Linked DNA regions of Homo sapiens: region 1 is linked to region 2. Evidence: fine-mapped expression QTL. Tissue or cell type: caudate. Region 2 holds a variant in brackets; the other region holds the start of a gene. All regions are shown on one strand. Distances are from middle to middle.

Evidence for each region. PIP is the estimated chance that this variant, and not a neighbour inherited with it, causes the effect. A credible set is the group of variants that fine-mapping cannot tell apart.
Region 1: it holds the start of LRP1B, and the variant in region 2 is the best candidate, but not a certain one, in a credible set for the expression of LRP1B in caudate (GTEx, PIP 0.85).

The regions. Positions count from the first base shown.
Region 1 is chr2:142,128,552-142,132,950 of GRCh38, forward strand. LRP1B (LDL receptor related protein 1B) reads right to left here and starts at 2,465. Exons shown (of 91, transcript NM_018557.3): 1 at 2,097-2,465. The coding sequence starts at 2,178. RefSeq lists an enhancer at 2,333-3,532.
Region 2 is chr2:142,187,648-142,192,046 of GRCh38, forward strand. No RefSeq gene overlaps it. Among named protein-coding and RNA genes, the nearest start is that of LRP1B, 59 kb to the left of the region's middle. The variant G/T (reference allele first, on the strand shown) is at 2,486.

The sequences.
Region 1 (4,399 bases), 59 kb before region 2:
AATTCCTTTTTCCAAATGGGGCCCATCCTTTTCACTTTTGGTAACTGTGAGAATTTTAGCTCTTTGCTAACAGTTTTGAAAGTGTGTTAAATATATAATAGTGGCAAAGTGCTGGTCTACAATTATTTTTACTTGTGCTATCTGATATAGTACTTCATGTGGACGTGGTGATACAACACGACACTATTTCATTTTTTAGAAAAAAACTAGCAATCGTTTACCATGTGCTCTGCTTCTATCTTAGATGTTCCTCTCCCTCATGAAACTAAATTGGCACCAAATATAATCCTCTTAGTTATTTAATATTCTATCTCAGAAGAAAGTTGTGGGGTCTGTATTTTTTATGTTCTATACAAAATTCTCTTCAGATATTTACTCCAATCATGGTAGCAGTAGTTCTATCCTCATAAATGTATACAAAAGCATTGAGAACTCAGCTTTAGATGAAGTCAAATTTCTGGAGATTGGAGACTCAATCAGGAAGAGCCCAATAGCAGTAGTCTGCCAGTACCATTATATTTTGCTAGCATACTGGGCTGAAAATCTCCATTCTGTTCATCTGCTCTGGTCCAACTTCAAACATTTTTCCTAAGAAAGGTTGAGAGCTGATTGTTCCAGATCAAAGACATCATCATTTCAAGGCGAGCTATGTGCTTCCATTTCATCAGTATAGTTTCCAACCATTCCACACCAACTTCAAGGCAAGTTGAGCAAGTTCAGAAGCTATGGTTAGGTGGCAATGATATGCTTAAAAGATTATCACCAATAAGTGTCAGATTTCCTAAAGGAACTCAGATTAGTCCCACCACTGGTAGAGGAAATAACACGTGTAGGTATGTTACAAAGGCTAGAATCTGGCTGCCAACAGCAGGTTGAATAGAAACACTGCAGTTCATTCCCCTGTTCTTTCCTATAATGAAGCAATATTTTTTGTCAATTCATAATCTGCTTCATGTAAATACAATAACTAAATCTCCCAATGCAACATTCTGCCTATTTGCTTGGCATTGGGATCTGGGTTTCTTTCTCTCTTTCTCTCTCTCTCTCTCTCTCTCTCTCTCTCTCTCTCTCTCTCTCTCTTATTTAAACTAAAAAGCTGAACTATACCAGTCAATATAAGCTCATTTTCTGATTTTAAAAAAATCTATGATACTTCTGATTTTACTTTAACCAGTTAACCATTCCAAGGCCAGGGCCAGTGCCCCAAATATTCATCTAGTATTTTCCTCCCTTTTTCACCAGTGCATCTGTTGTCAAAGATTATTAAACTCGCACAGGGATTCTTGATTTTCCAGATGAAAAGTTTATAGAATCCCGGCTTTTTCTAATTCCTACCTCCTTTCTCCTCTGCTCCCCATATCCATTCCCTTCTAAACTTCTACCATTCACCAGCTGCTTGGAGAAAAAGGAAAAGCAAAGCGCCAGACTGGAGAGAGGCACTCCAGGGGTGGGTTAGCCCCTCAGAGCACCTGGGCTGTGTCACAGACCCTCATAATCGAAAAGTCAATTTCAAGCAGGTGCGTGCGCCCGGAATCGTCCTAAAAGCCTCTCTGCTGATGACAGGACTCTGACCCCAGTCTGCCCCCAGGAAGGGGCTATAGAAACGAAAGGGGCCTGAATCGGCGCTTTCGCCGCTCCACGGACCTCGAATGCAGCAGGTAAGGAAGTTAACCTGGGAGCTAAGTTGAGGGCGGACACGCTTAACGCGGAGAACCTGGAGCTCGCAAAAGCTCGCAGTTGAGGGCCATCGCGGAGGGAAGTCTTTCGGAAATGCGAATTCTCATTCCAACATCTGCAGCGCTTAGAATTCGCGGACAGAAGCGCACAGCCAAGTGCACACACTCCCGGAGGGGACAAAATGGGGACCGGGAAACGGCCAAAGGGAAAAGCTGTGGGGGTGCCGAGGACTCAGGCACTTGGTTCAGAAATCCCGCACCGCACCTCTCACCCCCGCACAGGGCCAGCGCACGGTGGTCACCCGGTCCCGGGGAGCGGAGCTGCAAGGACTTAAGTTTCACACTCACTTATCTGCAAGCATCGCCCAGCAGGAAAGCCAAGGAAGTCAGGGGAGGGGAGCGGGGAGGTGTTCTCCTTACCTCGGTCGGCTCCCACGGTCAGCACCCTGGCAATCGGCAATAATCCCGAGAGAGTGAGTAAGGCGAGGAGAAACTCGGACATTGTGGTCGCCCGGTAAGGAAGCCTGCGCTGGAGACTGCTCGGCGGCACCTTCGGCCCGGCGGCGGCGGCGGCGGCAGGGGCCGCTTGGAGCCTGGAATCGAGCGGCGTCATTTACAAATGTCACTGGAAATTCTTCAGCTCAATGAGTCCAGCCAGTCAGCCTTCTCCTGCCTGGAGCAGGATGTGGAAGGTGGAGGGATGCGCGCGTGCGGGAGAGAGGAGGCAGAGCGTGTGTGAGCGCGAGCGAGACGCCCGTGTGTCTTGACTTTTCAATGCAGGGTACGTCTGATCTTACATCACGCAAGAGGGGCAGTGAGAGATGCCAGCGGATGGGAATTCACTGATTAATCACCGAATCCACCACACACCCCTTCGTCGTTCACATAAATCACATCTATTACTTAATAAGAGGCATTTAACACAACAGGAAAATACCACCGCGAACGGAGAGCGCCACAAATCACAATTATTTTAATCCCCTTGAAGGGAAAGTAACTCGAAGCTGGTTCTGTGGGGATTTGGGTCTTTGGAGAAGGGAGAGACTTCTGCATTGGCCTGAGCCAGCCAGGCGCCTACAATGCTCCGCAGTTCACAGCCAGCTGAGAACCCTCAGCCGAGCACAGGGCTGCTTCTGCAGGCAAAACAAAGCTTCTCCCTTCGTTCCTCGGAAGCTTCCTTCCCGGGAAGGAAGGACAAGCCAAGGAACAGAGCTTCTCTTAGGGAAATGGTTTCCTCGGCTCTACACAGAATCCCAGTACTTCCTGAATTGCACTTTTAACTTTTATGCTGAGCAGCACCTGGGGACAAAGAGGCAAAATTTAGTGACTCAGCAGAAACAGAAAGCAAAACAACCCCCAAAGTCATTAACCGTTGCGTAAGAAGGGAAGGTTAATGGAAAAGGCTATTGAGGTCCCCAGGCAGGGAACAATAAAGCAACGAATTGGCAGCGTTTTTCTCTGGGGTTCTGTCTTTAAAAGGGTACTTCGAGCCATTTTAAACAGGCTTTGAGGGTTTTGTTGTTTTTGTTTTGTGTTTTGTTTTGTTTTCCTTTTCCATATACTACAGGGGCGGTGTAAGAACTTTCCCGAGCCATCGGAGGCATCAACGGGAATCACTGGAATAATAATATTAGTAAAGTTGTTTTTATGACCACTTAAGTTTACAACATGATCATCCCAGTCCCTAAAATTTTAGTTTGCCATTACAAAGTGGCTACGGAATTAAAACTCAGAAATCTTAATAGTTGTAGACTTACTTTCTTCCTTGTAACATCAGGAATTCTCTTCTAAGAACAAGAGTTGAAAAGGTTTTATATTTAATATTTTGAAACTGGACATGAGTGGAGAGGAAAACTATGAGAAGGGAACAGAACTAAGGAAGAGAACGATTGAAAAGTGAAGGAAGATGCTTTAAAAGCTTTATTTACTTTGCTGTTTGAGACTTATAAGTGAATGCCAGCATTACTATCTACCTATTTATGAGAGTAAAATTATCCAGAAATATCTTTAGATGCTCCTTTGAAGCCATTAAAAACTGGACTAGATGAAAGAACACAGAGATGACTTTGCAGAACATTGTCAATAATCTGTGGATTTCACCTTTTTATTCTTACTCTGTGATTATAAATGTATTTTATGTCACTTTTTCCATGTTTTAAATTATAAAGTTTACTTTCCCTTGAAAATACAACCATTTTGTGTTTGAAATATGACTCCTACATTCAAAAGTGTATGCTTAATTTTTTTTTTTTTTTTTGAGACGGAGTCTCTCTCTGTTGCCCAGGCTGGATTGCAGTGGCGCGATCTCGGCCCACTGCAAGCTCCACCTCCCGGGTTCACGCCATTCTCCTGCCTCAGCCTCCGGAGTAGCTAGGACTACAGGCGCCCACGACCATGCCCGGCTAATTTTTTTGTACTTTTAGTAGAGAAGTGTATGCTTCTTTTCTTCTAAAGTTGTTACATGTCTAATTTTTCCTAGATGTTTTTATTATTTCATAATATAGTGTACAATATAGAATAAAAAGATTTTTTTACATATTTTACTTCATACTGAAAATTCACAAACTTTGAAATGAGTGGCAGAGTTTAAAGAATATGTGTGTGTGCGCGCGTGTGTGTGTGTGTGTGAGAGAGAGAGAGAGAGAGACAGAGAGAGATTTGAATGATGTGCCAAGTAATAAATGTTTCTTTCTCGAGGGTCCACAGACCTCTGTATTGTATGA
Region 2 (4,399 bases):
CTCTAATTATTACCTAAGTAGATAAAACTGAGCTCCTTCTGTGATCAAATATAAACTAGGAAAGGTAAAATTAGTTGTGTTACCCTACCCAGGATTACACAACCATAAAACAAACAACCAATTAACCAATTTATCATACATCAAATCAATTACCTGTGGGAGAGAATGATTAAGTGTTTCTACAAGAAAAATGTAAAATCATGAAATTATTGACTATTAGCTCTTGGCAAGAATTTATAATCATCATATAGTCAAGTGAATATAAAAACATGTTTTAGGCTGGGCACTATGGCTCATGCCTATAATCCCAGCACTTTGGGAGGCCAAGGTGGGCAGATCACCTGAGGTCAGGAGTACAAGACCCTGCCTGGCCAACAGCGTGAAACCCCGTCTCTACTAAAAACACAAAAATTAGCCTGGCATGGTGGTGGGCACCTGTAATCCCAGCTACTCGGGAGGCTGAGGCAGGAGAATTGCTTGAACGTAGGAGGTGGATGTTGCAGTGAGCCGAGATCATGCCATTGTACTCCAGCCTGGGTGACAGAGCGAGACTCCATCTCAAAATAAAACAAAACAAAACAAACAAACAAACAAACAGAAAACAACAACAAAACAACGTTTTAACACTGAATTATTTTTTCTTTTTTAATTAAATGTTCCTGTTACTGAATGATTGTTTGGTTGACTAAAAATGCTCCAATTTTCAAATTTATTTTCTTATTTTTGTATTATTACTCAAAGGTATATTGAACTGCCAAATAGATGGGTTTTAATCCCTCTTCTATACTCCTGTATCACCTGGGACATATGTCTGCTAAAGTCCTGAAGACACTTAATAATTTTTGGTTTACTTGCGTGTTTATCCACACAAGCTTTTTGAGCAAAGCTGTGTTTTCTACATCTCTGTATTCTTAGCATCTAGGTAATCTGGCCATCTATGTGCTCAATAAAAATTGAAATTGAAAATAAAATAAAATAGATGTTAAACACAATTATAGGAGGCCATTGTCTTGGACTGAGCTCTTGCACTGCGATCTTGCACCAGACCCCATCAGACCAGATCAAACCAAAATGGAGTCACTCATGCTAAATGTCACATAAGCAAACTGCAACTTTTAGGAAGCAAATAGATCCCAAACAGCACAGTTTTTCCTGAGAACAGCAGATTCCAGTCTACATGACTCAGCATCATAAGGAAGATCCCTCTGTTTTAACCCTTACCAAAAACTAACTCAAGTAACCTAGTGTTAACCAATCAACTATTTTCCTTTGTTCTGTTTCTTTCTCACCTTACAAAATCCACTCTTCTGTGATTTCCCAGTGAGAGTTCACATTCTGTTTTGTAGGATGTAGCTGTCTTGATTCATAAATTGCAAATAAAATCCAATTCGATCCATAACTAAATTTGTTATAATTTTATCTTTTAATATGAGGTTAGCACACATAATTCACTATAATTCCAAATTAAAACAAACATAATTACCATTTTAGTAAATTTAGGCATATATATATATATATATACACACACACAAACGTACACATGATTCCACTAGACTAATAGTCCTTAAATTATGCTGTGTATGAGGATTACCCATGGAGTTGAATAAACATATAAATTTCTAGTACTTGCTAAGGTATTCTGACTTAGTAAGACCAAAGTACAGCCAAAAAAGTTGAATTTTTTAAGGAAACATCTTAAGTTATCAATATATTAACCATGTTTAGGAAATACCACAGTAGACTTCTTAATATGTTGAAGTAGCTCATAGACGCACAGTGTTACTTTCACGAGAGCGTACCCCAATTGGGAGCCACTAATCTAAGCCAACCCAGAGATAAAGCAACCAGAATGAAAAGAGTTCCTAAAAAGTAAGAGGCAGAGTCCAATTTTAAAATCTGGTAGCAACACTTGAGTTCCTAGAGGATAAACCCAAAGATGCATACAATGAGTAATTCAACTTTAAGCCTCCCATTTTAAGATTATGAGAAGATCCTTATTTATACAAAGAATAAATGTCTTAGGTTAGATGGAAGAATGTCATTGCTGTGTAGAAGATGAAATATGTGTGGAAGAATGCATGTAGTCATTGAAAAGCAAATAAATGCACTGTGGTAGATATAGGTCCAAAACTGCCTTTCCTACACCTCTGGGGCCTGATGAACTTCAGAATTCAGAGTGTTTCAGATTTTAAAAAGGTACTATAATGCAAATACCTTTAGAAGAAAATGAACGTGGAACTGGCCTACAGTTTATTCCCTCTATCATTAAGGATGGAGGATTTGGGGAAATCATCAAGACAAAAAACTGTCAAATCTTCTTGTAAACATATGAATTATGAATGTCTTTGGTAACACGCTAATGGCATTTGTTTGTGTTAGAATAATCATTTATGCAATACTTTCACTATGATGAACCTGGTTGTCTACGATTGATTATGGTACATAAATCTAGAATATATAGATTTATTGGTAAAGTTCCCTGGAC[G/T]ATATCACATAAGCGATTTAGCTTATTTTACATTAGACATGTTTTATAATTTAAATGTATAACTGCACACATGTTTAAAGGATATGACAACCTAGGTCCAGAATATATAAAATGGTAAGAAAAGAAGTAAGTAGCTACATTGGAGCTCCCAGACAACTCTCTGATTTTCCTTTGCCTTGCATTCCTTCTATTATTGAAGTTATTAGTAAAGATTGGTGTCAGGTAAGATGATATTGGTTAAGATTTCCAGTGCATGTAAGTCTGATTTGACAATCTGATATTTGACATTCTGATACTTGGTGTAATTTCTACTGTATAGTTCATAACACCCTCAGAGGGTCAGGTCACCTTGTATTCAAATAACTTGATATTTATGCAGAGAATCATATAAATATTCACATGTAGTAGGATAAATGAAGATAAAACACAGCCTCACAATCAGCTCAGAAAGATTTTAATATCAAATTAGTGCATATCAGTGCAATTTACAAAGTAAGTTATTTTTAAAAAATCTTTTAGATTCAGAGTTGTTTTCTTTAACATTTTGGGGCAAGGGGTAAAAGTTTAAGGAACACTACTTGGCCTAGCTCTCTCAATCTCTCTATTACACTTTCCTTTTACTTTGCCCATATTCCCTTCTAGCTAACAGTTGTATGCAAACTTTCGAGTCAGAAGCAAAGCAGTGGCCTTATTCCTGTTGGTGACTGCAGCAAAGCAATGTCAGACAGAAGAGAGGGTTGGCATGCTTACACTCTGCATGCCAATGCAAGACATCAGCTCTAGGGGTTTGAAAGCCTGTGGCAGTGATATCTAAGCCAGCAGCAGTAGAGCTTCCTGACCTCTACATCACAGCTATGGCAGTATGACCTTGAAATTAGTAGTCCGGTTGTAACTCCCCTGATTCCAACTCCTCCAGCTCCTCTGATTTTTGAAACCCTTAATCAGTAAATCTCTCCCTGCTTGAATTCCAAGAGTGCTTTCTGTTTCCTGGTCTGAATCATGACTGATACAGCATTTGGTAGCAGTGATTTGAGAAATGCAGCTTTTCAAAACATTATATCCTGAGCATATGTATTTTATGACAATTTGTGATGCAGTTTGTTTGAATCTTAAGCGTAAATAGAGGTACCACTCTCCACCCAAGGAAAGCTATTGGCAGCATAAGTAGGTACAAATGTCTTTCTTTTCCTTACAATTCATTATCTTTTAACTTACTTTCATATGTGGATCATGCTGTGGGAAACAAATACGATCATTATCAGTAACAAATAAAATCTTCTTTATGAAAGAGATTTTTTTCCTATGCCTGGCAATTTTTTCTTATTATATGCTCTTCTGCTTATATAGTTGCATTTCCTTGGATAGCTTTAAGGTTACTATAAACAGATATCTCACTGATAATGACAATGGCAGCCTTGAAATTCCAAGCCATTTCTAGCAATTCATCTTGAAGCAGCATTTTAGTTCTCTTTTCGTTGATTATCTTCATGTTATACTATTAGGTCCAGGGGCTTAGTCATTTTTTTATTACTTTGACTAGAAAATAGACACTTAGATATTTGTAAAAAGTTCTATATTGTTGAATTATGGCAAGTACACTATCCACCCAAGCAATGCAAATTACAACCATGTGCACTGTTTCTTATTTTTGCAATGTTATAGGAGAGCTGACTTATTTTTCACCTACTAATGAATGGTACCCTCAAGGATCTGGAAACAGTTAACATATTTTTTTTTAATTTTAAAATACAAAACTTGAGGAAATAATAGGTACATGGTAGAGTGTTACATTTGTTAAAATTGAAGAACGGGTATAACCTAGTATAGTGGCTGTTTTCAAACTCCCTACTACCCTCCTACTCCTGGTAGAACTAGTCTTCTGGAAACATCTTGGAGAAAAAGACATAGTATAAG